5 separate regions of the Homo sapiens genome follow, and all the other regions are linked to region 1. Evidence: fine-mapped expression QTL. A gene starts in region 1. Each other region holds a variant in brackets. All regions are shown on one strand. Distances are between the middles of the regions.

Region 1 (5,106 bases):
CTAACTCAGGAGGGCTCTGTCCTCATGACCCAATCTCCTGCTAAAGGCTCTTAATACTATTCCACTGCCGATTAAGTGTCAACATATGAATTTTGGGGGGACAGAAACATTCAGACCATACCACAGGAGAACAGACCTCTACAACGAAGAGAACTATCTGACACAAAACAGCGCTGAGATTGAGAAACCCTGACACATCATGAGGCAGTTGGATACACTTTAAAAACATTTAGACCCTTATTTTTCCTTTCTATTTTTAACATCGCTCACTGAATGTACTCTTTATGCATTGAAATAAACCTTGTTTATATTTTAAAGGCACCCGCCTCCATCCCCATCTTTCAATTTAAATTTAGTAATGGATTTTCCGGGAAAAGTGCATATCAGTTGAATACTTCTAAAAAACATATATTTCTAAGTTTTAAGTACCATTTTACCCAATTGTTTACAGAAACATTAACTCTAATGCTTTTGTATAATTTTAAAATATTATTCATATTCTGTTCTTCATTTATAAAAATGATGCCAAAGAGCAATGCCAGGGGACATTCTTCTTTAAACCGATTTACTGTAGAAATGATGGATGTGCACTGAGTCATCCACTCAAGCAAGTCTTCATCCTGGTAGCCATTTGGAAAGCGGTTGACTAGAGACCGACATGTAGTCTGTGACTGGGGAACAGTTGCTTTTTGTGGGAGACTAATTGATCTGTGTTTGATTCAATTCTGTGATATTGATCTTGACGGCATCATGTTTTCCTACTAAGTCCCAAGAACATTCCTGGTCTTCATAATCCCACTTCATGGTTTGAAAGTCAAAAATAGAAATTCATATGACAAAATGGAAGTCATATTCATTTGATCATTTTTCTTTTCCTTTAAAAACAGTCCTTAAAAGTTCTTTGGGGTAGGGTGGAGGCAGCACTTGAAGAGGTCAGCAGCCATGGCTTGGTATAAAGAGCTCCCCTGTTCCTCAGAGGCCTAGAATTTGTTTATGAAGGGCTCTGTTTCTTGACAGACATGACAAGACACAGTTTTTGAAGTCCTCCGCATCAAAGAATGTACACTTAGTTCAGCATGAACTTCTGCTTCAAGACCAGAGCGAGGTAGCTGCTTTACTCCAACTTTTGTAATGCTCCAAGAGATTAAGTGCCCTCATCTTCAGTGGACATCAATGTTTTGATTAGACAACTAACTTTCCTAATAAATTTCTGGGCTTCTTCTGAATAATCTTTCAAAAATTTTAGTGAGATTTCTGTACATACACTCGGGAGACAAAATCATGATATCCCTAGAGTTTTTATTACATCCTCATTATTCTTACCTATTTCTTCAGCAGTCCTAGCAATGAGAACCAGACAAGATCATCTTGGCCAAACGACCAATACTATTGGTTTACTGCCCCGTTTCAGTTGGAGACAAGAACGGTGGATCCTGGTCACCTCCACGGAGGGAACACAGAGAACATTCACTGTTAAATATGACACCTATAATTAGGAAAACCTATGGTTTTACCATAGCAGTTTTACAGACGAGGTTATTTTTGGGGTGTTGAAAAAACAGCAATTAAAAGCTTCCAACACAGTTTATTCATGCCCCAATAAATTATTTCCCCACCAAGTATACGCTCTTAAAGAAACGCCTGATGTCTGGCCTCAGTGTCCTCACGGGCTAACGTGGCAATTATTAAGGGTGTAGAATTTGAGCAAACTTTCTAAACCTCTCCTGCATGTCTTATTCTAATTCCACAGCCCCTTAAATCGCCTCCCTGGGATCCAGGCGGCTTGGAAAAAATGAAGTCTGAACAGCCAGAGACCTAAGGAATCAAGTTTCATTTACTAAGAAAAACTAGAAGGACTGCGATTAGATTAGGCAAGGTGGGAAAGGGATACCGGCAAGTAAAGCGCCGGAAACTTACAACTTGGGTTATTTTCTAACTGGCGTCTTGCAAAGGGACACCATGTAGGTATCCCGCTCGTCAACTTGTAAATGAACTTCAGGTTCTCTTTGGTGGCAGGAGAATTCTGAATGTGAGAACCTGGCGGCCGTTCAACGACCCCGCCCTCGGGGTCCCCAGGGGGCGTCCTCCGGCAAGCCTGATCGTCTGGGGCCAAGGCGCAGGGCGAGCAGGGAGGGAGGAGGAGAACCAGGGCCGGTGGCCCCGAAAGCACACACAAAGCGGCCTGACTCCTTTGGTGGGAACTTCCCCGGCCGCCAGCGGAGCGGGAGCGGGAGGGGGCGGCGGAGAGGGGGGGCGGCGGTTCCCCTCGCCGAGGCGGAGAACAGCGCGCGCTAGGCTCTGGGCGCGCGGCGAGCGCAGCGGCCGCCGCCTCCTCCCTTCCCCGCCTCCGCCGGCGCTGCCTCCTCCCTCCGCCCAGCTCGGCCTCCCTTGCTCCCTCCCCTCCTAGCTGGCTTCGGCGGGGACGGCGGCGGCGGCGGCGGGCGGGGAGGGCGTGCGCCGGCCGAGAGGTGTCGGCGGCGAGGCAAAGGAAGTTTCAAGTGGAAGGTCGTCCGTCGGCCGGCGCGTCCTCCTGCTCTCCTCCGCAGCATCATGGCGGAGCCGAGCGGCTCGCCCGTGCACGTCCAGCTTCCCCAGCAGGCGGCCCCGGTGACAGCGGCGGCGGCGGCGGCCCCGGCGGCCGCGACAGCAGCGCCGGCCCCGGCAGCTCCCGCGGCCCCGGCCCCGGCCCCGGCCCCGGCGGCACAGGCTGTCGGCTGGCCCATCTGCAGGGACGCGTACGAGCTGCAGGAGGTTATCGGTCAGTGCGGCGGGCGCGGCGGGGCCGGCACAGGCCGGGCGCCGAGGCCGGGCGGGAGGGGGCGCGGGATGCTGGGCTAGCCTGCATGCACGCCCTGGAGGCAGAGAGGCCGGCTTCGGGGCCTACTGGCTTCAACAGTTTTTTTTTTTTTTTTTTTTTTTTTTTTAATTTTTAATGTATTTGTTCGTTCTATGAGCGTTGGTGCTGCAGGAGGCGGCGCGGCGGATGTGACTCGCACTGCAGACGAGCCGCATGCTGCAAACTTTTATCTCAGGGATCGCCGGGGCGGTGGAGCGGAGGACCAGGCGGCGCCGCCGCATCTTCCTCCCCCCGCGTGCCGGGACCGCAGCCCGTGGCCGGTGGCCACGCGGACAGGCAGCCGCGGGTGGGGTGTGGTTGCGGGGGCCCCGCCCTGGGTTTCCAGGGCCCCGGGGGCCGCGTCCTGGGGGACTCTGCGGGCGCAGCCGCTCCTCTGCCTCCCGTCGTGACCCTCTCGTCGTGGGTAACGGGGCCACGTAGAAGCCGCGGAGGCCCCAGTGCTTTTCTGAGGCCGGGGAGGATGCTGGCCTCTCTTCCTGACAGCCGCCACTCCACGCCCGCCTTGCAGCCCGGCTCTCCGCGCCACTCGGCGCGCCCGGGTACCCGCCTCCCTCCGTGCCAGGGTGCGCCGCCTGCCGCCCAGTCCGGCTCCCCGGGGAAAGCGGGTGCCCTGGCCTCCTGCCCTGCACCGGGCCGATGCTTCCCTCTGTTTCAGGCCGAGCTGCAAGAGTGAAATCCGAGGCTGCCGGTGATCTGCTCTCTGCCTTTCGTTGCCTTCTGGCCGGCTCACAAATATCACCTTATCTTACATTTTTAAATACCTGGCAGAGTCGCAGGGCTCGGCGTTACTTTTCCTTGGGCCAAGCACTTGAAGGGCCAGGAGATTTGTTTTGTCCCTTGACTTAGAACCTTCCCTATTGGATCATCCAGTTTGAGAGTCTTGTCACTTAGGGAAGCCTCCAGGTTAAGTGGGCCCTCAGCGTCTAACCTTACTGACGCAGGGATGGGATGTTGCCTTTCCAGAATCTTGGTATATAAGTACAGCGATGAAAAAGGAGTTCAGAATATTTATCTTAAGTATTTTTTCTAACTTTCACTTCAAAAAATTCTTCACCTCCTTTTAAAAAAATTAAAACAGATATAAAAATTTCACTAGGTGTTTAAATGAGCCTTTATCACCTGCTATTGGGGAATAAAACAGCATAGACGGAAATATATATATAAATATATACATAAAAATATGTGAGAAAATGTTGGGCAGGTCCGTAACCTAGGATATATACAAGCTTCAGATAACCTATAATAGGCATCTGTAGACAAAATTCTTTGAAAACCCAGATCTTTCATAATTTTTGACCAAAGACTCTAAAGGGATGAGTCTTCATGTCACTGCCTGAAATAGCTTCAGGGGCTTCTCAAAGCCTGGAATATTCCATGGAAACCTCTTTAACCTGGCATATAGGCCCTGTACCCTCAACCTGCCTGCCTCCTCCCATTGTCTACTCTTCAGTGATTGCTTCCTGAATACACCGCTGTCTTCCGCACATCTGGTCTTCCATTCTTTGCTGCCTTGCAGAGGCTCTTCCCTCCTGTGAGTGCCCATCTTTGTGTACTAAATCTCACTCCGCTTCCAAGGTGAGTGTGAATATTCCTTGAAAAGCCTTCTGCTTCTTTCAAGGCAAAATGCCGTGGTTTCTTCTGCCCCTCTTTTTACAGACCTCATAGCATGTAACCTCATAGTTGTTATTTGCGCAACAAGATCTGAAGGCCTGCTGTGTCCCAAGCATTGCCCCACTTGCTAGCAATATAGAAATTAACAAAAGTGATCCCTGCCCTAAGTTGTTAGGAGACATAGGGAAAGGATCCTATAGGATGTGATGAGTAAGTACTGGGAGAGCCCGAAGGAGGGAGTGACTGCCAGGAAAGAGAAGGAAGCAGAGTATTTCTTAGTAGAGGTCGTAGTTGAGCTGGGTTTTAAGTCTGAGTTTGTAAGGTGCTTAATTATTTCCACTGTTGCCTTCACTAACCAGCTGTGAACTCTGACAGGAAGAGGTGGGCCATAAAAGTTGAATAATGGTATCTGCCACATAATTCTCCATAGAGTCCATAGGATTGGGAGAAGTTATAATCAATTTATATACCTACTTGGTCAATTATTAGGGTTAAAATACAAACGTTGCCTTTTGAAAACAGTATTTTTTTGTGAACTAATAAAATCTTAGTTTAAGTTGAGTGGGATTAATGGCAGGACTTCTTTCTGTTTGCAGTCCCAGCAGTGTTAATTATGGTTGGTCAGTTTAGTGGAAAAA
Region 2 (5,106 bases), 93 kb after region 1:
GTTTTTCACTGTCCAAGGTACATTGGTAGAACTTTGGGTAGCATCTCTTATTTACTGGGAGGGAGATAATATCCTTATCAGCCTTGAATACATCTTCATTTTAAATCTGCATCTTGAACACTGAAAACCCCATGACTAAAAGTGCTAGGAAAACATGCAATGAAACTTAACTTGCTTCTGTCACTTAGGCGTTATCCATTAAGGAGCTAGAGGAAGATGGGCAAGGTGGTTGAGTTTTTACACCCATAGCTGCTAGGTTCTTTCATTTTCCTTCTGTGGCCTTTGGCCCTCATAAAGTGCACTTTGATGGGGAGGGTAGGGGTTTAAGAGTTATTTTTTGTGTTGTAGGGAAGAGAGGCTGCTGCTTTGAGCAAGGCACCCGAGCAGCGCTGGAGTCAGCTTCTGATTAGTGTGGGAAAGCGCTGAAAGCCCCGGAGGCATCCAATCAGGAAATGATGTCATCACATTTATGAGCACCTTGGCCCAGAGCATGGGCTCTGACACCAGACAGCCATAGTTCAGTCCTGGCATTGCTCCTTCTAGCTGTGTAACCAAGTTATAGCTTTAGCTTCTCTGTGCCTCATTTTGCACGTTTGTGTAATGAGAATATACTGCGGCATTAAAGGAGTTAAAACACATTTTATTTTAGAATTTGCTAACTCATTGCTTTCGTATTGAAATTGGGATGGTGTCCTCTAATTACTTAGGGTGTGGTAAGCTCACGGTGGCTAGGGAGGTGCGAGGCCTTAGGCACTCCATCTGACCTCCTGCCGTGTTATTTTGCTCTTTTCTTTTTCCCATCAGTTTCCTCAATATCACCAGAGTGAAGAATCTGCAGTGTAGATCTGACTGTATCTTCCTCTTGCATAAAGTTTATAAGCATTGTTGATGGAATAAAGCATTGTTGATGGAATAAAGCTCCAGCTTCCTACTAATGGCAGATGAGGGACCTGCCTGTTTTTCTGGTCATGTCTGCAAGTGCTTTCTGCTGTGACTTGAAATGCTTATAGCTTCTTGTTCAGGGTTCCCCTTTCTTACCTGAGTAACTTCTTTTCATGACTTATTCATGAAGAATTCTTTCCTTGAGAAACCTTTCATGATCATTTCCTCCACCATGCCCACCTGCACCAGGTTAAGCCCCTCACCCTGGTGGTTTGCAAGGGTTCTGGCCATACTCTAGCTAGCCTATGACACAGCACTGACATTGGGCCTTTACTTTCCCATCTTCCCTTCAGACTGGATACTTCCCAGAGGGAGAAACTGTGTTGTTCATCGCAGCATTCCCAGATGGTACCTGATACATGGCAGGTGTTCCTGAACTTTGGGTCAGTGCACTCTGCCTAGAGGCACGGGAGACACCCTGTCTCAGCAGCAGGTTATGCAAGTACATGTGCCTGTTGGTGGCAAAGAGAACAGATGTAAGGCATAGCTGAGAGTTGAAATGAGTAAGAATATATCAGCTTAGCAGGGAGGGAGGCAGAAATATTTTAAATATTTAGGTATGTATACTACTGCATATTTTAAAGGCTGAAAATAGTTTTTAATGGGGAATATCACTTCTGATTTTGGACAAGCACTGCCCTAGCCTGCAAGCCATGAGGCTAAAGTTAAGGAAGAGTGAAGCAGAGAACATGAATGAAGAGGCAACTGGTTATACTCAGAAAATAGAATACACATGAAAATTAAAATCTGTTGGGGTGGGGGGGGTGCAAGTGCTTTATAGTGAACCGAAATATTTGTTTTGAGTTTCAGGAACAGTTTATAACTATGTGAATTATGGTTTGATGAATTACGACAAAATTCTCATACATGAATTTTTTTTTGGCATAAGTGAATAAGGACAGTAAATTAATGTGGCTCCCTGATTTTTGGTATCTCGACAAATGGTAACATTTGATAAGAGCTCTAGAATGAACCAAGAATGTACTCAGTTCTGGAAACTGAGTTTTTCATTCCAGCTGCACACCATCAGTGAGAAATACTTGGGGAGATTGTAAGCAGCTTCTCATGCTTTAACAGCTGCTAGCAGTTGTTTGAGCAACAGCTTAAGGAAATGTTACTGGGTGAACCCGGTGGAGGAGAACCACTTTGCTCTACTCTCCTGCTGGAATTTTTGCTCAGCTCTGCACGTTTAGCTGCAGGGGGGACAGGGTTGAGCTTCACAGAAGAGTGTCTAGGGGGGCATGAGGCAGATGGGACTCAGTCTCCCTCCTTCCCTCTCTTTTTTCCTTCCTGTAAGGGCCTGCAATTCATTATTAAATTAAATTTCACATATTACCAAATACTATGGAGGTCTGCCTAAAATAAGAGTTTTTAGACTTGAAAGCAGAGCAATTCGGTCCTTTGCTTATTTTTTCGTT[T/C]ATTTTTCTTTTTCCCAGAACCTCCATTTGTATAGCCTGCTCCTTCTGTGGGAGAAAAGGTAAACATTAGATGTTTGGTTTCAGTGTATCCTCAGTGGTTAGTTGACAGGTATTTATTGAGCATTTGCTATGTTCTAGGCACAGTCCTCTCAGCTGACACAGTGGTAAGCAATGGAGACATTGTGTCTACTGTCATGGAGTTTAGGTGACACATTAAACAGTCAACTATATAAATTTAAAAAATGTGTTAAGTGTGAAGGGAATGCCTATACCTGGGTAACTTAAGTTATCCACATTAGGACTAGTTGAATAGGTTGTAATGGGGATAAATTTTAAATATGTATTGTAAATAGGTTTTGGTCAATAACATCTTATAAGTTACTGCATGTATCATATGTTGATTACAGATTTTTAGGACATTTAAATAGTGTTAACCTGTGTTTACATTCTGTGGAATATGATTTAACACTTGATTGTATGTAGTACACTTGAGGACACAGTAGCCAGTCTAGGCCCCCAGTGGTCATTAACTTACTGTCCTTACCCTTTGCTGGCCATAGTTTGTATCACCTGTAAAATGATGTGCTTAGGCTCTCAAATTTCCTTGCAACTCTAACAAGTGGATAACTTTAATAGAGAACTCTATGACCCCTGTGCTCCTGAACTGTGCTTCTCACAGTCTTTCCCAGTTCTTTTAGTGGGAGAACCATTCTTCTATTGAATGGGCCAGAAATCTTGATATTCCTCGATCCTTGTCGTTCTCTTGGACCCTACATCCTATCCAATATGTTAGTAAATCCTATGGTTGACCATATTTCATCAGCTCCCTGCTGTCATCCTGGTCCACAGACCCATCAGTTCTTGTTTGGATTATTATGGTGGTCTCCTAAAAGGACCTCTTCTTCTGCCTTTGCCCCTCTGTGGTCTGTTCTCTACACGGCATCTGGATTAATGCTGTTAAACTAAGTTGACTTGTATTATGCCTTTCCTCAAAACCCTCCAACCCCTTGCCATTTCAGAGTGAAAGTCAAAATCCTTAAGGTGGCTCGTGAGGCCTTACAAGATCTGGCCCCTCATTATGTCATTGATTTCAACTCTTACATCTTCCTCTTCAGTCAAATCGGCCTCCTTACCTTGCATGCTGCTGCCCCGGGATCTTTGCATGGGCCGTTCCTTCTTTCTGGAATACTCTTTTCCTTACCTCCTTCAGATCTTGGCTCAAGTGTCACATCAGTGAGACTTCCAGGCCTCATATTGTAACCCCCCCCCACCCCATATTTTGTATTCCCTGCCCTGCTCTGTTTTCTTTATTGTACACATCAGCGTACTCTCTATCAGTGGCTCTCTCAAGGTGTGCTCCTAGAGCAGCAGCAGCAGCATAAACTTGATAAAAATGCAAACTCTTGTGTTCTCCTACCCTAGACCTTCTGAATCGGAAACTCTAGAGGTAGGGCCCAGCAATCTGTGTTTTAAGAAGCCCTCTAAGGGTTCTGAAGCAGGCTGAAGTCTGAGAACTACTACTATGTATTATATTTTGTAATTTTGCTTTTATCTGTATTTACCTCTCCCCCTTACTCCTGCCCCAACTTAAAAGTCAGCTCCGTGAGAGCAGGGGTTTCTGGTCTACAGTCCCAGTACTTAGAACTGGAAGTGGCACTTAGTAAGATCTTGGCAAATAGTTGTCAAATGAATTAATAAACATCTGACTATATAGTAAATTTAGATTAAAAGAATATTGAGCAATAGTTCAGTGACTCTTTAATGTTAGGAGTTTTCAGTGTGAGGTTTTCTTTTATCACAGATTTGGAAATCTGCAGATTCTTTGAAGATTCAACTAATCCTTCTGAAAACTTTGTAAAACAATGGTGTGCATTGTTTCCTTAAATACTTGTAGCAACTGGAGTTGTGTTATTTTAATCTTCTCCCATAGGGATCATATTTTTAACATGTACAGATGGGCTATTGTGGCTTAATGGAAGCTTCTGATAGTAGTGCTGGTTGAGTGAAGATTTGTTTAAAAAAGATCACCTGCAGGTATATGAATATTGCATTGGAAATTTAGACTTATTAATATTTGATCTAAGTTGTTCATGCCTGTCTCTGCGGATATGGCCGGCCAGGAGCCCTCGCTGACTTTAGAAGCTTGCCTTTGGCTTGGGAAACAATAATACCTGTATAATATACTTACCTGGTGCTCTCCTTACAGCAACTCTGTCAGTTCAGCACAATAGTTCCTTCAGATGAAGCATCTGAGGACTGCTGAGCAATTGTGGACTTGTTTAAGGTCATTCTGAAAGTCATAAAAGCACTTCACTCTCAAATCTCCTCAGACTTCACTTTTGCTTCTTGCCATTAGGTTTCACCCCTACCCCACCAATATACTTCTTAACTCTATGCCTTTTGACGGTTGAGGAGCGCCGGGGCTCAGTTCCTTCCGTTGTAAAGTAAGGAAGATTGACAAGATGTTCTCCAAGGACCTATCTTGCATCAAAATGTTCAAATAACCCTTCATTAGCTGCAGTCACTTAAAGACATTCTCAGTACTGTTTTGAAGAATTCAAATCAGAGGATTGTCTTGGGTGTAGAGAGGAGAGTAAGCCAAGCCTCTGTCCTGTGGCTGCTTTTACCAGAGCATCTTTAAAAATAGTCCTCCCACCCCACATTGGGGATCCAGGGAAGAATGGATATGTGGTGTGGGAATTATCTGTGTTTTTCCTTTGTTCAGTGTAATTATCTTATTTAATAG
Region 3 (5,106 bases), 62 kb after region 1:
GGCACTTGTACTCCTGTAGAGCTCACATGTGTGTCCATTCATCCAAGTCCTCTCCTGGCCAGCTTCTGGTCCTCATGTGACTGACTGGCCTGTGGGCTTTGAGGTTGGACACATGATATAAATAGAGCTCAAAGAGTAAGCTGGGGAAAGGCAGGATTAGAATAAATCAGCTGAACCAAAGCCATTTGTTTTGTTTACTATCCATCACCAGCTAGCACCTCTAAAAAGAAAGCCTGAGCCCACTCTTGACTCTGTTCACTGGCAAAGGACAGCTGAGCATACTTAAGGAGTTCTTGCACGTGCTAAGAGATGGTCAAACTCTTATTAAAGTTCCAACTTTGTGCTTCTCATTTAAATATAATATGGTGATTAGAACTTCCTTCCAGGGGCCATAACTAATGTTACAGGCTAATGTGATGCCTTGAAAAAAATCTTGCCATTTATGGGAAGGGGTTACTGGACAATTGACGTCTTAACTTTAACGTAAAGTTCTTATGGACTAATTTTTTTAAAAAAAGTACTAGATGTTTATTGCTACATTGTTCATATGGGGATGAAAACTAGAAATAAAGGGGATACTCATCAACAGAAGGAGGGCTGAATAAATTATGGTACATTAATACTATGAAATATTACGTGGTATTAAAATGACAGATTGACAGGACACCAGTTGACCTGGGGGGATTTCCCTAAGGAGCAACGCTAGCTAAGATTTAATTAGTGCTTACTATGTGCTAGGCACAGTTTCAAAGACTTTTTTTGTGTTAACTCATTTAATCCTCACAACCACTCTATGAGTGAAGTAGCATTATTGCCGTCTTACCAATGAGGAAACTGAGGCATGAAGAAGTTAGGCAAGTCATCCAAGCATAAGCAGTTAGTATGTGGCAGGTCTGGGATATGAACCCATGCAATCTGGATTGACATAGATATTTTAAAATAACTTTTTTTTTTTTTTGAGATGGAGTCTCACTCTGTCACCCAGGCTGGAGTGCAGTGGCATGATCTCAGCTCACTGCAGCCTCTACCTTCCGGGTTCAAGTGATTCTCCCACCTCACCCTCCTGAGTAGCTGGGATTACAGGTATGCACCACCATGCCTGGCTAATTTTTGTATTTTTAGTAGAGACGGGGTTTCACCATGCTGGTCAGGCTGGTCTCAAATTCCTGACCTTGTGATCCACCTGCCTTGGCCTCCCAAAGTGCTGGGATTACAGGCGTGAGCCACCATGCCCGGCCTTAAAATAACTTTTTAAGGTTAGATATCAAAGTGCATTATACATGACAATCTTTGCTATGGAATATTAATTCACAGCTGTTTCTGAATTGGATTGTCTCTTATATTTTAAACTCTTATGCTCATCATGCTGTATCAGACTTTAGAAATCATTTAGTTCTTTGGTTTCCAAATTTAGCTCTCCTAGCCTCTCTTTTAAACCAGTCTAATCTTCCTGGTGCTAAGCAAAATGAAACTCAGTTCTGACCCTGAGCCACTTTGCCCTCTTTTCCCTTGGGTGCCATATAAACAGTAGATATAGTTTACCTCCTTTATGTCACAGATGGAGAAATGAGTCCCAGAGAGAGAGCCTAACATTTATTGAGTTGATGTTTTCCAGGGATGTGAAATATATTATGTTATGAAGCCTTAAAGGTGTATTTTATTATGCCCATTAAGGAAGCTGAAGTCTAGATAGCAGTTAGGTCGAAAGTCACAGAGGGAATCAATACCACGTTTGGATAGAATCCCTGTCTAACCTTCTTTTCAAGGCTCCTACTAACCTAAGATGGGAACTACAATGAGCTACCAGAGGCCTTTCAGTTGAATCTTGCCATTTGCTGTTGACTTAATCAGGAAGCTTCTAAGAACTTCTAATTAGTATGGCATTCTCTGCCATAGGTGTTAGTGGAAGAATGACTTTGAACAGACATTTCAAGGCTTTTGTATTAGTCTGCTTGGGCTGTTGTAACAAAATACCATATACTGAGTGGCTTAAACAACAGAAATGTATTTCTCACAGTTCTGGAGTCTAGGAAGTCCAGATCAATGTGCTGACCACTTCAGTTTCTGGTGGGCTCTCTTGCTGGCTTGTAAACAGGCACCTTCT[T/C]GCTGTGTCCTCATAGGACAGAGAGGGAAAGTAAGCTCTCTATTGTCTCTTTTTGTAAGGATACTAATCCTATTGGACCAGGGCTCTGTCCTGATGACCTCATTTAACCTTTAATTACCTCCATAAAGGTGGTAATTATCTGTTAACTGTATCTCTAAATATAGTCACATTGGGGATTAGGGCTTCAACAAAGACATTTTAGGGGAACACAGACATTCAGTCCACAACAGCATTTTAGTCATCCCTGTTAACTTCTGCAGAGGAAGTGATCCTATAGAAGGATTTATTCCACTTGAAGCAGGAATGGTCACCTTTGGCACTTTATTATCTAGTGAACTGCCTGCTACATGGCAGGGATTTAATTACTGTTTGTTGATGAATTAATATAAGCAAATATCTTTTTGCTGCTTTTTTGCACTAAATGCACTAAATGCAAAGAGGAAGTTATTGTGTGAGTCATGGGAGTAGGGACTTTGAACATACTGTTGAAACTGCATTTGACAATAGTAGTGATTTTTGCAAAATAAACACTGTAGTTTTTCATGTTAATTTCACATAGACCTTAGTGAAATGCAAAGTTAGAATACTAAATTATATTTCCATGAAATATTTCTTTGGATAACTGAAAGTATAAAATGCAGGTATGCAGTGTTCTGGTTATTTACCTTAATACCAGCAGCAGTACAGAGGGGAAAATGAGAAGAGGTGTCAACTAAAGGAAAAATCTGCATCATGGTAATGAACGTGAGCAATCTCTTACCTCTGATTGCCATTGACATAATCACTATCTAAAACTTCCAAGTAGCTGTTCTTAGTCGGGAATTACTTAGCAAAAGTGAATTGAGATAGAGTGACTTAAAAGAGTGAACTGAAAAGATTTAAAGCCGTGCCCACTTAACTTGTGCATATGTGCATACAGGCCATAATCCTATTGAATGATTTATTGCACTTGAAATAGGAGTCAGGAATAAAATGAGAAATTCATAAAATGTTAAGAACTCTTATTCCAAAAGGGGTGCATGATACTTCATTGAAAATATGCTACTAATGTTAATGAGTCATGTGTCAGTATCATATATTGTTCAAAATAAATACAAGGTGCTGTTCAGCATAGTAATTGCTCTTATTTTATTTCATGTTGCTAACACTTGTCCAGTTCCTGTATTTACAAGCCCCACATTTTTTAGCTTCCTCTTAAACTAATCAGCAAAGTGCATAAAAACCCTTAAAGCAAGACAGTGTTGGTATTATTTCTAAATGTCCTTTAGAATTATGCAGTTAGGTCACCTCCTTTCCTTTCAAAGCATGGATTTACTCTAATCCTGGGAATCCTAATCTAGTACTAGCAGACTCCAAACTTTTGATCATCACTTACAGTAAAACATGTCATACTAAAGCTTGGGCGTAAGTGAAACAAAAGTTTCATAAAGCAGTTTTTACCCTTATTACATTCTGATGCTTCCCTTAAACAATGCTGGCCTCCACCCAGTTAGTTGATTTTGTGACCAGTGGATCCTCACTGGCAATTTGAAAAAACACCAACCTGGTGCACAGAATGGTAGATAAGGAATAAGTATGCCTAGGGTCCTAATCCTGTGCTTTCCAATTGCTGCAGGAAACACATCCCTATCCTTCACAGGACCCTGTTTTCTCATTCATAAAGTGAGGGGGTGGGTTGGACTTGATGCTCTCTAAGGTGCCTTTCCACCTTTAACTTTGTTCTTGGTCTCTTCTATAGTTGAAGGGAAATCTTTGGATTTAGAGTAGAATCTCCCAAACTGTTTAATGAATGGTTAAATCCATCCATGTTGTGACAATGATCTCAGGTCACAAAGCTTCATAATTCTGTCTAGAGATGAGAAGTAGCCAGTCGTTCCTTAGTTAGCTGTAGTTGTAAAGCAGTAACAATTCTCTAGCTGTAAAGCTTTAATAAAAGATTTTTCTCACCACCTACCCCTCCATGTTTTTAGAATTCTTATTTTTTGTTCCTTGGAGGTTAGGAGACTTTTACTGTCAAGGACTTAACTATGAGAGGTATCTCTGTATTACATACGCTTGTTTTGTCCTTTCTGGGAATTAATTTATTCTTTCCTGTTTTTGAAACTCCTTGATTTGTGAATGTTCTGGAATGTAGATTAAGGATGGAGAAGCTGAGCTGGGGGGAGATTTATTGCAGGTAGAGCTGAGGATGGTTTCCCACCAGCAGCTAAAGATGTTAGTTGATTTCTCTGCTGGGTACCAGGCCCAGTGCTAACCAGCTGCATAGCACTTTCTCTGTGGCTCCCTTCAGTGATAGTGTCTTGTTCCGGAGACTGGAAAATATACTTTGCTATCAGCAGACTTTTTGTATTGTTTGGCTCTGCCATCTGGACCATTCTGGATTGAACCCAGTGGGCTGTGATCTGCAGGGCCAGTGAAGCCAAACTAGTGGGACCTGGAGTAGCAGCCAATGGGGTAGCAGCTGATGGATGAGCAGTGAGATTAGGGAGAGGAAGGCCCTTTGAAGCAACCTGTCCATAGCACTCTCTTCCCAAACAGCTCTAGCAAATGAGGCTCATGCAGACCCTGGTCTGGGTTGTTTGTCTTCTGTTGAACCATATAGGATGGAAGAAAGTTTTTTCCTAGCAAGGCCAAAACAAGTGAGGAAGGGAAGCATGTGCTCTGGCTTGTGGGAAGTAGAACAAAAGCACACATCTCGGAGTCTGGCAGGCGTGATGCTGATACTGGCTCAGGTACTTATTAGCTCTATGTGACCTTGGGCAAGTTTTCTGAGTCCCGGTTTTCTCCCATGTAAAATGAGGCTAGTAATAAAAATGTACAGGCTCATAAGGAGTCAAGTGTCTACTGTGCAGTGGGTGGTCAGTATGTGTGTGTGGATTTTCTTTCCCAGTGAACACAAATTGGGCTTCCCTGGAATGGTAGTCTTTAAGTTGGAGACCTGGGTTTGGAGGAGTAGGGTGATCTGCTGGGGTTGCCAAGTCGGGGGCCAAACCTGATGATGA
Region 4 (5,106 bases), 20 kb after region 1:
TTTTGCTTAATTAAGAAAGTTTCTTTACTTTGAAGTCAATCCAGCAATATTTTATTCCCCGTTTCACAGTTTTTCAAAAAGAATTGCTAGCCTATTAGGATAGAAATATTAGAAGCTTTGTAATAGTTACTGACAGAATTACAGAGTTTGCCTCTCTTCATTTTTTTTAGTTCTTGTTTTAGTTTTTTTTGTTTTGTTTAGAAATAATAGAAGGAAGGGAGATGTACTGTTATACCTTTTAATTTTTTTTTTTTTTTGAGTCAGAGTCTTGCTCTGTCACCCAGGCTGGAATGCAATGGTGCAATGTCAGCTTACTGCAACCTCCGCCTCCTGGGTTCAAGCAGTTCTCCTGCCTCAGCCTCTGGAGTAGCTGGGATTATAAGGCACCTGCCACTACACCTGGCTAATTTTTGTATTTTTAGTAGAGATGGGTTTCACCATATTGGCCAGGCTGATATCTTGGCCAGGCTGGTCTCAAACTCCTGACCTTGTGATCCACCCGCCTTGACCTCCCAAAGTGTTGATATTACAGGTGTGAGCCACCACGCCTGGCCTATTTTACCTTTTATTAAGTTGTAAAGTCTGGTAAAAGCCCTTATCATAAAATATTATATGCTTTTAGATGTGGGAAGAGGGCTAAATGTTATCTTTATAAAGTTAGAGATTTAAAGGCTAAGTGACCTGTTTATTACATTGGAAGACAGGTCTGGACGTGGGATTAGAATTGTGGAGTGTCCTTCCTGTGGCTGGCCTGAGTTCCTTTCTCATGTAAGGAAAAAGCACTGAGAAAAAGATGTTATCTGGATCTCTGAGGTTATTAAAAATTCCAAGCTTATTTAATTAATTTATTTATTTGAGATGGAGTTTCACTCTTGTCCAGGCTGGAGTGCAATGGCGCAATCTCGGCTCACTGCAACCTCTGCCTCCTGGTTCAAGTGATTCTCCTGCCTCAGCCTCCCAAGCAGCTGAGATTACAGGCATGTACCACCACACTAGGCTAATTTTGTATTTTTAATAGAGATGGGGTTTCACCATGTTGGTCAGGCTGGTCTCAAACCCCTGACCTCAGGTGATCTACCTGCCTCAGCCTCCCAAAGTGCTGGGATTACAGGTGTGAGCCGCTGATCCTGGCCCTATTTTATACTTCTCAAATATTATACAAACAATAATATAAGGTCATTGTAGAAAATTTATACAACACTGATGAGTGAAAAGGAGGAAAAGTAACCTCATCACCCAAGGCTAGACACTGTTTGAATTTTGATGTAGGAGTATATATTTACATGGCATAGAACTTTAAAAAAAAAAGTGTAAATTGATATTTTTAGAAATGTCTACCTTTTTTGTATTCCCAGTACTTTCACATTTAATTTGTTACGGCAAGTAAAATAAACTAGTCTTAGATTAATACTTGCTTGGCAAAAGTGATTTTATTTCTTGAGATTTTGGCATACACTGACAAGCATGCCTTATGATTACTGCAAAGTGTGTTAAGTGTATTTTTTCTCATACTTAAATGTTTTCAGAATCACGGAATACATCTAATACAATCTACTCTTAATGTCTGTGTTACGACTTAGATTTCTTAGGAGTATCTATTATACTTTGCCTTTTGTCTTCTAGATACTATTGGATCACCTTATTCTGATATTTGGCACTTCGTTGATTGGTAGAAAAATCGTTTTGGCCAGGCGCGGTGGCTCACGCCTGTAATCCCAGCACTTTGGGAGGCTGAGGAGGGCGGATCATTAGGTCAGGAGATCAAGACCATCCTGGCTAACACGGTGAAACCCCATCTCTACTAAAAATACAAAAAATTAGCCGAGAGTGGTGGTGGGTGCCTGTAGTCTCAGCTACTCGGGAGGCTGAGGCAGGAGAATGGCGTGAACCTGGGAGGTGGAGCTTGCAGTGAGCTGAGATTGTGCCACTGCACTGTGAGACTCCGTCTCAAAAAAATAAATAAATAAAAAAGAAAAATTGTTTTACAAAAAGTTCTGGCACAGAGAGAAGTTAAGAGTCAGTAACTTTCTTACTGTTTGTGGATGTGTTTGAACAGAGTAGTGACTTTTGGATTTCATAGTGACTTCGTATGAAACCTAGAGCTGGCA[G/A]CATGAGGATTTTCTAGATGAATTAAATATGTGGTATCTTTTTGTAGAACTAGCTGTGTGATTTCATGCGGATGTGGGAGAAATGAATAGGAATTTAATTTGATGATATGAATGTTGAATTTTGTGGTCCGCTAAATTTTAAGGATTTTATAGTATTTAGAACAAAAGGACAAAATAGCTTTTGGCATGACTAGTCTTTATTTTAAATGTTTTTTAAGTTACAAATGTATAATATTTATGAATCAAGTAGATGAAAATAACTCCCAACTTTCATTGCCCAGAGATGGCCTGTATGGCCAGTTTGGTGTGTATCCTTGCAGATGTTTTTCTATGTATACATCTACATAAAGATTTTTCCAAAATGTAATAATTTTACATGTAATGTGGAAACTATACGTATTGTTCTGCAATCTGTAAATTTTACTTCTTCAAAGTAATATATATATATTACTTGGGTATTTTACTTCTGTATATTTTCTGTAAATATTTTTAGTAAAGTATACACATTATAAATATTCACAGCTGTCATTCCAGGCTATTTCTCAGAGATCCACCTCCTTTAAAAATGTGTATTCTGGATCCATTGCTATTCTATGAGTGCAGCTGAATTTACTTAACTAATTCCTTTATTGATGAACTTATTGATTGTTTCCAAGTTTTTATTATTTCTGTGGGATAGATATCCAGAATTTCAGATGGCCAGGGCCAGTGGTATTGCATTTATACTTTTGATAGATACTGTGACAATTTCTTCCAGTTGTACTAATTAAATGCTAGCTTATTTGCTCCCATTACTGACCTTAAAGGTAAGAGGGAGTTATAGTGAGAAGGCATCTTGCCTTATTCCCGATTTGACCCAGACCTAAAATATCTAAGGTCAGGAGAAAATGGTGGGTGGGGTGAGGTGGGGTGGGATGGTTGGGTAATTGTGGATTGGAAAAGAAAAAATTATTGCCTCAGTTTAGGGAATGAAAGTTGCATCACTTATGGTCTAAAAAATGAAGTGTGATGAAGTTTATTTGTATGAGCAAATTTATGGAAAGATTTTTTTGAGTTGGTGAGCAGTCTGGATTATAGAATATAACAAAATTGGTTAATCTGCCCTTTAGGTTGTAAGGAACAGGGACTCACTAAAATTACCCAAATAATGGGGCATTCTTTATAAAGGTAGATGTGGGAATAGGGGGACAGGAATCTCATCCATAATCCTGGGTTTTCTAGCATCCTGGAAAAGTTGAGGGTCTCGGTCTTGGGAATTGCAGTGAAATGTCTGCATATGGACTGGGAAGTGGATAAGACCTCAGCAGCAGGAAACTTTGGATCCTCACTATTCTGGATCCTCTAACCTTAGTGTAACCGGCCAATCAGCATGTGTTTGCTTTGCTCATGCCCACCTGCTTCTCTGGCTGTTTTTACCTGGCTTTCTTACCTACTATCTGTGCATGTCTTCTCTGTCATGTTGTTTCTACTTAGTCAGAATTTTGGCTCACTCATAGCTCCTTATGGCCCATCCAGCTTCTCTCTTCTTTCCCTGTTAGCCGCAACTATGGCTGCTAATTGCTGGATTCTGTCTGTATTTCCCAATCTTAATCCCAAAGATTGAGAATCTAGTTTTTAGTGAGTCCCTTCATAGAACACCTGACTGCCCTAAACTCAGACACCCTCCTTGGAGAAGGGTGTAGCATCGGAAGTTCCTGCCTGGGAAGGAATCACAAGTGTGGCAGGCACCACTAGTGAGTGTTTTATGTAATACTGCTCTTAGGTAAGTAACTGGTCACGAGACAGAGACGACATGTCACCCTAATCAGCAAAATGTAATCCTGATCTAATGTACTTTCTTTGTTAAAATATATACTTACAATGTGTTTAAAGAGCAGTTTATTGTTTTGAGTCAATAAATAACTTTCTTCCCTAGGAAGAACCTCCCTTTTCCCTTATGGATTGTAAATTGGGAAATCTTATGCCCAGTTTCAGTTATAAATTGTCTTAAATTCTGAAATAATGATACCCGAATCCTGAGATATGGTCTGGTCTTGCCTTTTCTGCTGGATTTAAAGTACTATGAAGTAGTTCATCCTGTTTATGTAATGGTGATAAAATTCTGAAAAATATACCTGGAACCTGATACTCTTTGAGGAACTAACTTTCCTATGTCAATAGTTTTATCAGCAGTATCTTCTCCATGGATATTGAGAAGAGAATCTGATCCTCCCAAATTTTATGATGTATTTGATAGTTTTATCAGCAGTATCTTCTCCATGGATATTGAGAAGAGAATCTGATCCTCCCAAATTTTATGATGTATTTGGTGGTCCAGTGTTTCAGAGATGCAAGTTTGTTAATATCCCCTGGAAGATTTCTCAAGGTTGCTTTGTTTTCCTCTTCAGGGTCACTATTAAGTATCCCTTTTTGCCCTGTTCTCTTCCTCCTGAACCCCATTCTGCTTCACTTTCAAAACGATGGCTAGAGGGTTGGATATGTCAGTGATCATGAACTGCTGAGTCCTAAACTTTGGTGTCTGTGTCCCTCAGAACCTCAAAGGGCAGTTTCCCTGTGACTTTTTAAAATGAGAACCATGTTCATGAAGTGCTGTCTTAGTTTCAGATCACTTGAAATGTAATCTGATTTGAGAGACAGTGTTTAAGCTCCTGTTTACCAAAAGGCTGTTTTGATTATCATTTTGCAGGAATTGTTGCTGGGTAAAAGACAAATGAACAACGTACTCAGAAGAGATGACCAAATGGTCTGATTTCATGTTGGAAAGTTTCTTCTGGTGGTCTTGAATCTGCGTTTTAATCTCCTTAAAAATGCCTTTTTAGCACATAAGCAAAATTAAACATTATTGTTTTATTAAAAACTATGCAGTGCTCCTTATTAGTTAGGAGAAAAATCTCTTAAATCCTTTTTGTTAAGGACATGTGTAATTTAAGGCTTTCATTTTGACAGCCTGGTTTCAGCTGACAGGTATGTTAATCTCTATTTGATTGCTTTGGTGAGG
Region 5 (5,106 bases), 25 kb before region 1:
ATGATTGTAGGGTCTGGCAAGTCTAAAATATGTGGGGCAGGCCAGCAGGCTGAGAATTCAGGCAGGAGTTAATGCTACAGTGTTGGGGAAGAAGTCATCCTTTTTCTGAAAACCTTAGTGTTTGCTGTTAAGGCCTTCAACAGATTAGATGAGACCCATCCATATTTTTAAGGGTAATCTTTGCTTAAAGTCAACCGATTGTAAATATTAACCGTAATATCTTAATAGCATACCTAGATTTGATTAAATAACTGGATACTATAGCCTAGCCAAGTGACATATAAAACTATCACACTCGCCAATCTTCATTTTTAAGAGTTTACATAAAGATATACTTTCACATATAAAATTTTGTATTTACACACACATATGGAAAATCTTTTGCAGCATTTTTTATGATAACAAAAGACTAGGAACAATCTAAGTGCAGGGAAACAGAGCTGGTTAAATACTGTGTATACTGAGATGAAATAATAACTGAAATATTGTTAGGTTAAAAAACAAGATACGGTTTTGTGTGAAAATATCTTTAAAAGGAATTCATACTTGTATGTATTTAATATGCATAGACTATCTCTAGAAGTATATACAAAAACCGGGTGGCAAAGTAATGGCTAGGATAGAGACTCACCTTTTACTTGTATAGTCTTTGCACCTTTCAAATTTTGAGCTATATATAAATGACTATGTTAAACATTCCCAATATTCATTAATTAAAAAGTAGACTGGCTATGCATCTCCACAATGGCTAAAATTAAAAAGACTGACAGTGCTAAATGCTGGCTAAGATGTGGAGTAACCATAATTCTCATGTACTCTTGGTGGGACTATAAAATTGTACAACCATTTTAAAAAGTCTTGGCAATTCACTGCAAAACTTAACATATACCTACCCAAGAGCCTAATAATTTTACTCCTAGGTGTTTACCTAAGAAAAATGAAAGCATATGTGAACAAAAAAGACAATTGTACCAGAACATTCATAACAGCTTTATTTGCAATAGCCAAAAACTAGAAACAGCCCAGGTGTTCATCAGCAAAAGAATGGCTGAACCTACTGTGGTATATTCATAGAATGGAATACTACTTGGTAAAAAAATGAAAGAAACTGCTCCTAGATGCAACAGTATGGATAAATTTCAAAAACATTATGCTGAGTGAAAGATGTTTTTAACAAAAGACTACATATAATTCCATTTTCATAAACTTCTAGAACAGGTAAAATCCATGATGGAGAAAACTAGAAGAGTGGTTGCCTCTGAAGGGCAAGGTAAGTGTTGACTGAGAAGGGAAGGAAGGCATTTTCTGGGGTTCATAGTAATGTTTTATAACTTAATAGAGGTTCGGGTTTACATGTTAAAAACTTATAGAATGATACACGTAAGATTTGGGTATTTCATTGTAAATTTCACCTTAAAAATCTTAAATATTGAACTCTAATTAATTATATGCATGCACAGTTAGTTTTTTTTTTTTGCCTATCAGGGCAGGAAAGTTGGTTTGTTTTCAATGTAAATATATAGTAGTGGCTAGGACTCAGTGAAATGGGCACTGTTATACACTTATTAATGGGAATGTTAATGTGCAAATATGTTTATTATGTCATTATTCATAATATCAATTAATTGGAATTGATTTTTTAAATTGACAATATTTTAAAGTTAATGTAAGATGGAATACGAAGCAAACATTTTTAAAATTGTAGAACATCAATTGCAAGGAAACATGTTCAGGGATGTTTTAAAATAAAAATTTTATTTAAAAAGTGAATACATCAAATTGCACGGGCGCAGTGACTCACACCTGCAATCCCAGCACTTTGGGAGGCCATGGTGGCAGATAGATCACTTGAGGCCAGGAGTTTGAGACCAGCCTGGTCAACATGCTGAAACCCTGTCTCTACTAAAAAATTTTTAAAAATTAGCCAGGTGCAGTGGCACACGCCTGGAATCCCAACTACTGGGGAGGCTGAGGTATGAGAATCGCTTCAGCCTGGGAGGCAGAGGTTGCAGTGAACGGAGATCATGCCACTGCACTCCAGCCTGGGTGACAGAGTAAGACTCTGTCTCAAAAAAAAAAAAGAAAAGAAAAGAGGTCGGGTGCGATGGCTCACGCCTATAATCCCAGCACTTTGGGAGGCTGAGGTGGGCGGATCACGAGGTCAGGAGATGGAGACCATCCTGGCTAACGCGGTGAAACCCTGTCTCTACTAAAAAATACAAAAAATTAGCCGGGCGTGGTGGCGGGCACCTGTAGTCCCATCTACTCGGGAGGCTGAGACAGGAGAATGGCGTGAACTCGGGAGGCGGAGCTTGCAGTGAGCTGAGATCACACCACTGCACTCCAGCCTGGGCGACAAGGGGAGACTCAGTCTCAGAAAAAAA[A/G]AAAAGAAAAGAAATAATAATAAAAAAAGAAAGAAAGCAAATATATCAAATTATATAAAAATGTTTCTATATTTAGAAAATGTACTGGTAACAGATAAACTAAAATTTTATTAAGGTTATTTTACAGTAGTATACCATATACTATTTTTATTCCTCTTCCTGCATTTCAGTACTATTCAAATTTTCTATAATTAACATACATTAATTTTGAGTAGAAAATAGAGTGCTATTCTTGAAAGTAAATAACTCAAATTTTTGTAGGAGTCAGAAAATTTAAAGAAAGTTAACTGAGACTAGTAGTTAGCTGTATAACAAGTCACCCCAATACATAGTCTTTAAAATAATAACCATTTATTTAATTCATGATTCTGTGGGTCAGTAATGTGGGCTAGGCTGAGCTGGGTGGTTCTTCTGGTCTCAGCTGGGCTAATTTACATGACTGTGATCAGTTTCTGGGTTGACTAGGAATGGCTCGTTGTTGGCTAAAGTGTCTTGGCACTCTTCCATGTTGTTTCTGATCTCTAGCAGGCTGTGTACATTGTCACTCATCAAGTTTACGAAAGAGCTAGGGGACATGTGCAAGGCTCTTGAAGTTCAGGCTTGAAACTGGCAGGTATTGTTTCTGTAGCATTCCATTAGCCAAGGCAAGTCACAAGACTAGTCCAGATCCCAGTAGTAGGAAAAGAAACTCCACCTATTAATGGGAGGAGCTGAAACGTTACATCATGAAAAGACTTAGATATGGAGTATGGAAAAATTTGTGGCCATTTTTGCAAATCCATTACATCAAACACTAGTCCTTGTATTATATAGACAGATAATATACCAAATGTTAAGGAAATAAATTGTATGCAAAGATCCCTGCCTGGTATAAAAATAAAATTAGTGGTAAAATTATAAGTAATCAACCAATTTATATATAATTAATTACCAAGCTAATAATACAAATGTGTACTTTTTTTTTTTGAGACGGAGTCTTACTCTGTCTCCAGGTTAGAGGGCAGTGGTGGAATCTCGGCTCACTGCAACCTCCACCTCCCGGGTTCAAGCGATTCTCCTGCCTCAGCCTCCCAAGTAGCTGGGACTACAGGCATGTGCCACCACACCCAGCTAATTTTTTAAATTTTTAGTAAAGACAGGGCTTCACCATGTTGGCCAGGATGGTCTTGATCTCTTGACCTCGTGATCCGCCTGCCTCAGCCTCCCAAAGTGCTGGGATTACAGGCGTGAGCCACTGCGCCCAGCCCACAAATGTATACTTTTATAATAGTTATTCAACATGGCAAGACACAACTTACTATTTCATTTTTAGATCTGGAAAACCTTAGTCATGTGAAGTTTAATGGGCCTGATTCATTTTAGAAAAAAAAAAGAAATGTAGGAAGCAAATGTAAGAATTCAAAACCAAACAAAAACTTCAAGTATAGTCCGATTCATTGTCAGTCTCTAATATTTGTATTGAATTTCTGCCAGTTTATTTTTCCCTAGTCATGTGGAATTCTGATCATTAGAAAATTTAGCTGGCTGAATGAATTTACATGCACAATACATTTACACACATGGGCATGTATACACACACACCACACATCCCTACACAAATTCTCCCCTTCCTAAGAGTTAATATACTCTATGCACATCTTTAAACTCTAGCCAATTGAAAATGTTAGCATAGAAACGCTGTAGAATTCTAAACTAGTATCCTTTCTCGAGAATGTCTAGAAAACTATGTGGATACATACACGTAGAAAAATATGTATGTACAGGTTTATACATAGTTAAAATGATTGAAAAATCCAGAATTTTAAATCTAGAGTGTACCTTGGAGATCATATACAATCATAGTTTCATACAGATGTGATAACTGGGGTTGAGGAAATTAAGTGAGTGATTTAATAATTCTAAAATGGTAATTTCTGAATAAAAGGAAGAATTTCAAGAACAATCTATAGTAGATATGGTAGATTGGTGCTTCATATTTATCCCATCTTCCTGTACTGCGGAGGCTTGTAAGGAATATGGCCGTGCTTTGGTCAAGGATAGACCAAGGTAGGATGTTTACATCCTGCGTGACTTAGCGAGTTTAAAGTACAGGCATATAACTCCACTTGTTATCACAGCCATTTAGCCATAATGGGAAGGCTACCACTTGGCCTAAGCCACTATTGTCTGTAAAAGGCATAATTGCCCTCTCGATACTATGCAGGTGCACTGGTGCCCAGAGAGAGAGAGCCAAACCTGTCTATCTTTGCAGATAGACAGAGGGGAGCCAGGACACAGCTCAGGTCACTTGTGCCCAGAGAGAGAAAGAGTTAAGCTGCTGACCCTGAAGGCAAGGGAGAGCCAGCTGTGCAGCTACATGTGGGGGCCACCAGACTAAGTAGCCATGACAGGGCAGACAGTATGAGAAATCTGTTGATGAGAGCTGCTGCTGAATAAAATCATCTTTCACCTGCCCACGACCCCTGAGTGTTCTTTCTGCTCATCCACCCACTCTCTTGAACCTCAGCATGGGCTGGAACCTGACCCTGAACATGACATTTGGCATAATCATGAACCTGACAAGGCTGGAAAACTAGTAACTACACTTCCCAGACTCTCTTACAGCTAGGATTCTGGATGTGATTTAAGATTAACCAATTCATTTTCTCAACAGAAATCATATTGTTCACGCTGAATTGATCCACAAGGTCAAACAGTCCAGCTTATTATGCAAAATTTTTTT

Direction of the effects. Positions count from the first base shown, and alleles are read on the strand shown. Sizes are in standard deviations (SD) of each study's normalised expression. Not every link is listed here.
For the expression in Th2 cells of the gene that starts at base 2,391 in region 1, allele A in region 5 goes with a lower level than allele G (moderate effect, 0.69 SD a copy in Schmiedel 2018).

What was found. PIP is the estimated chance that this variant, and not a neighbour inherited with it, causes the effect. A credible set is the group of variants that fine-mapping cannot tell apart.
Region 2: its variant is the best candidate, but not a certain one, in a credible set for the expression of STK39 in whole blood (INTERVAL, PIP 0.75).
Region 3: its variant is the best candidate, but not a certain one, in a credible set for the expression of STK39 in T cells (TOPMed, PIP 0.54).
Region 4: its variant is the best candidate, but not a certain one, in a credible set for the expression of STK39 in whole blood (TOPMed, PIP 0.80).
Region 5: its variant is the best candidate, but not a certain one, in a credible set for the expression of STK39 in Th2 cells (Schmiedel 2018, PIP 0.71).

What each region holds. Positions count from the first base shown.
Region 1 is chr2:168,244,880-168,249,985 of GRCh38, reverse strand. It overlaps STK39 (serine/threonine kinase 39), which reads left to right and starts at 2,391. Exons shown (of 18, transcript NM_013233.3): 1 at 2,391-2,758. The coding sequence starts at 2,551. LOC107985959 (a long non-coding RNA gene) reads right to left here and starts at 2,025. Exons shown (of 5, transcript XR_007087282.1): 1 at 1,918-2,025. RefSeq lists silencers at 2,186-2,435, 2,646-2,695, 3,056-3,105, 3,196-3,285, 3,306-3,505.
Region 2 is chr2:168,152,163-168,157,268 of GRCh38, reverse strand. The region is part of intron 5 of STK39 (serine/threonine kinase 39); the gene reads left to right. Among named protein-coding and RNA genes, the nearest start is that of STK39, 93 kb to the left of the region's middle. The variant T/C (reference allele first, on the strand shown) is at 2,361.
Region 3 is chr2:168,183,203-168,188,308 of GRCh38, reverse strand. All of the region lies in intron 1 of STK39 (serine/threonine kinase 39), which reads left to right. Among named protein-coding and RNA genes, the nearest start is that of STK39, 62 kb to the left of the region's middle. The variant T/C (reference allele first, on the strand shown) is at 2,105.
Region 4 is chr2:168,224,536-168,229,641 of GRCh38, reverse strand. The region is part of intron 1 of STK39 (serine/threonine kinase 39); the gene reads left to right. Among named protein-coding and RNA genes, the nearest start is that of STK39, 21 kb to the left of the region's middle. The variant G/A (reference allele first, on the strand shown) is at 2,109.
Region 5 is chr2:168,270,247-168,275,352 of GRCh38, reverse strand. No RefSeq gene overlaps it. Among named protein-coding and RNA genes, the nearest start is that of STK39, 25 kb to the right of the region's middle. The variant A/G (reference allele first, on the strand shown) is at 2,385.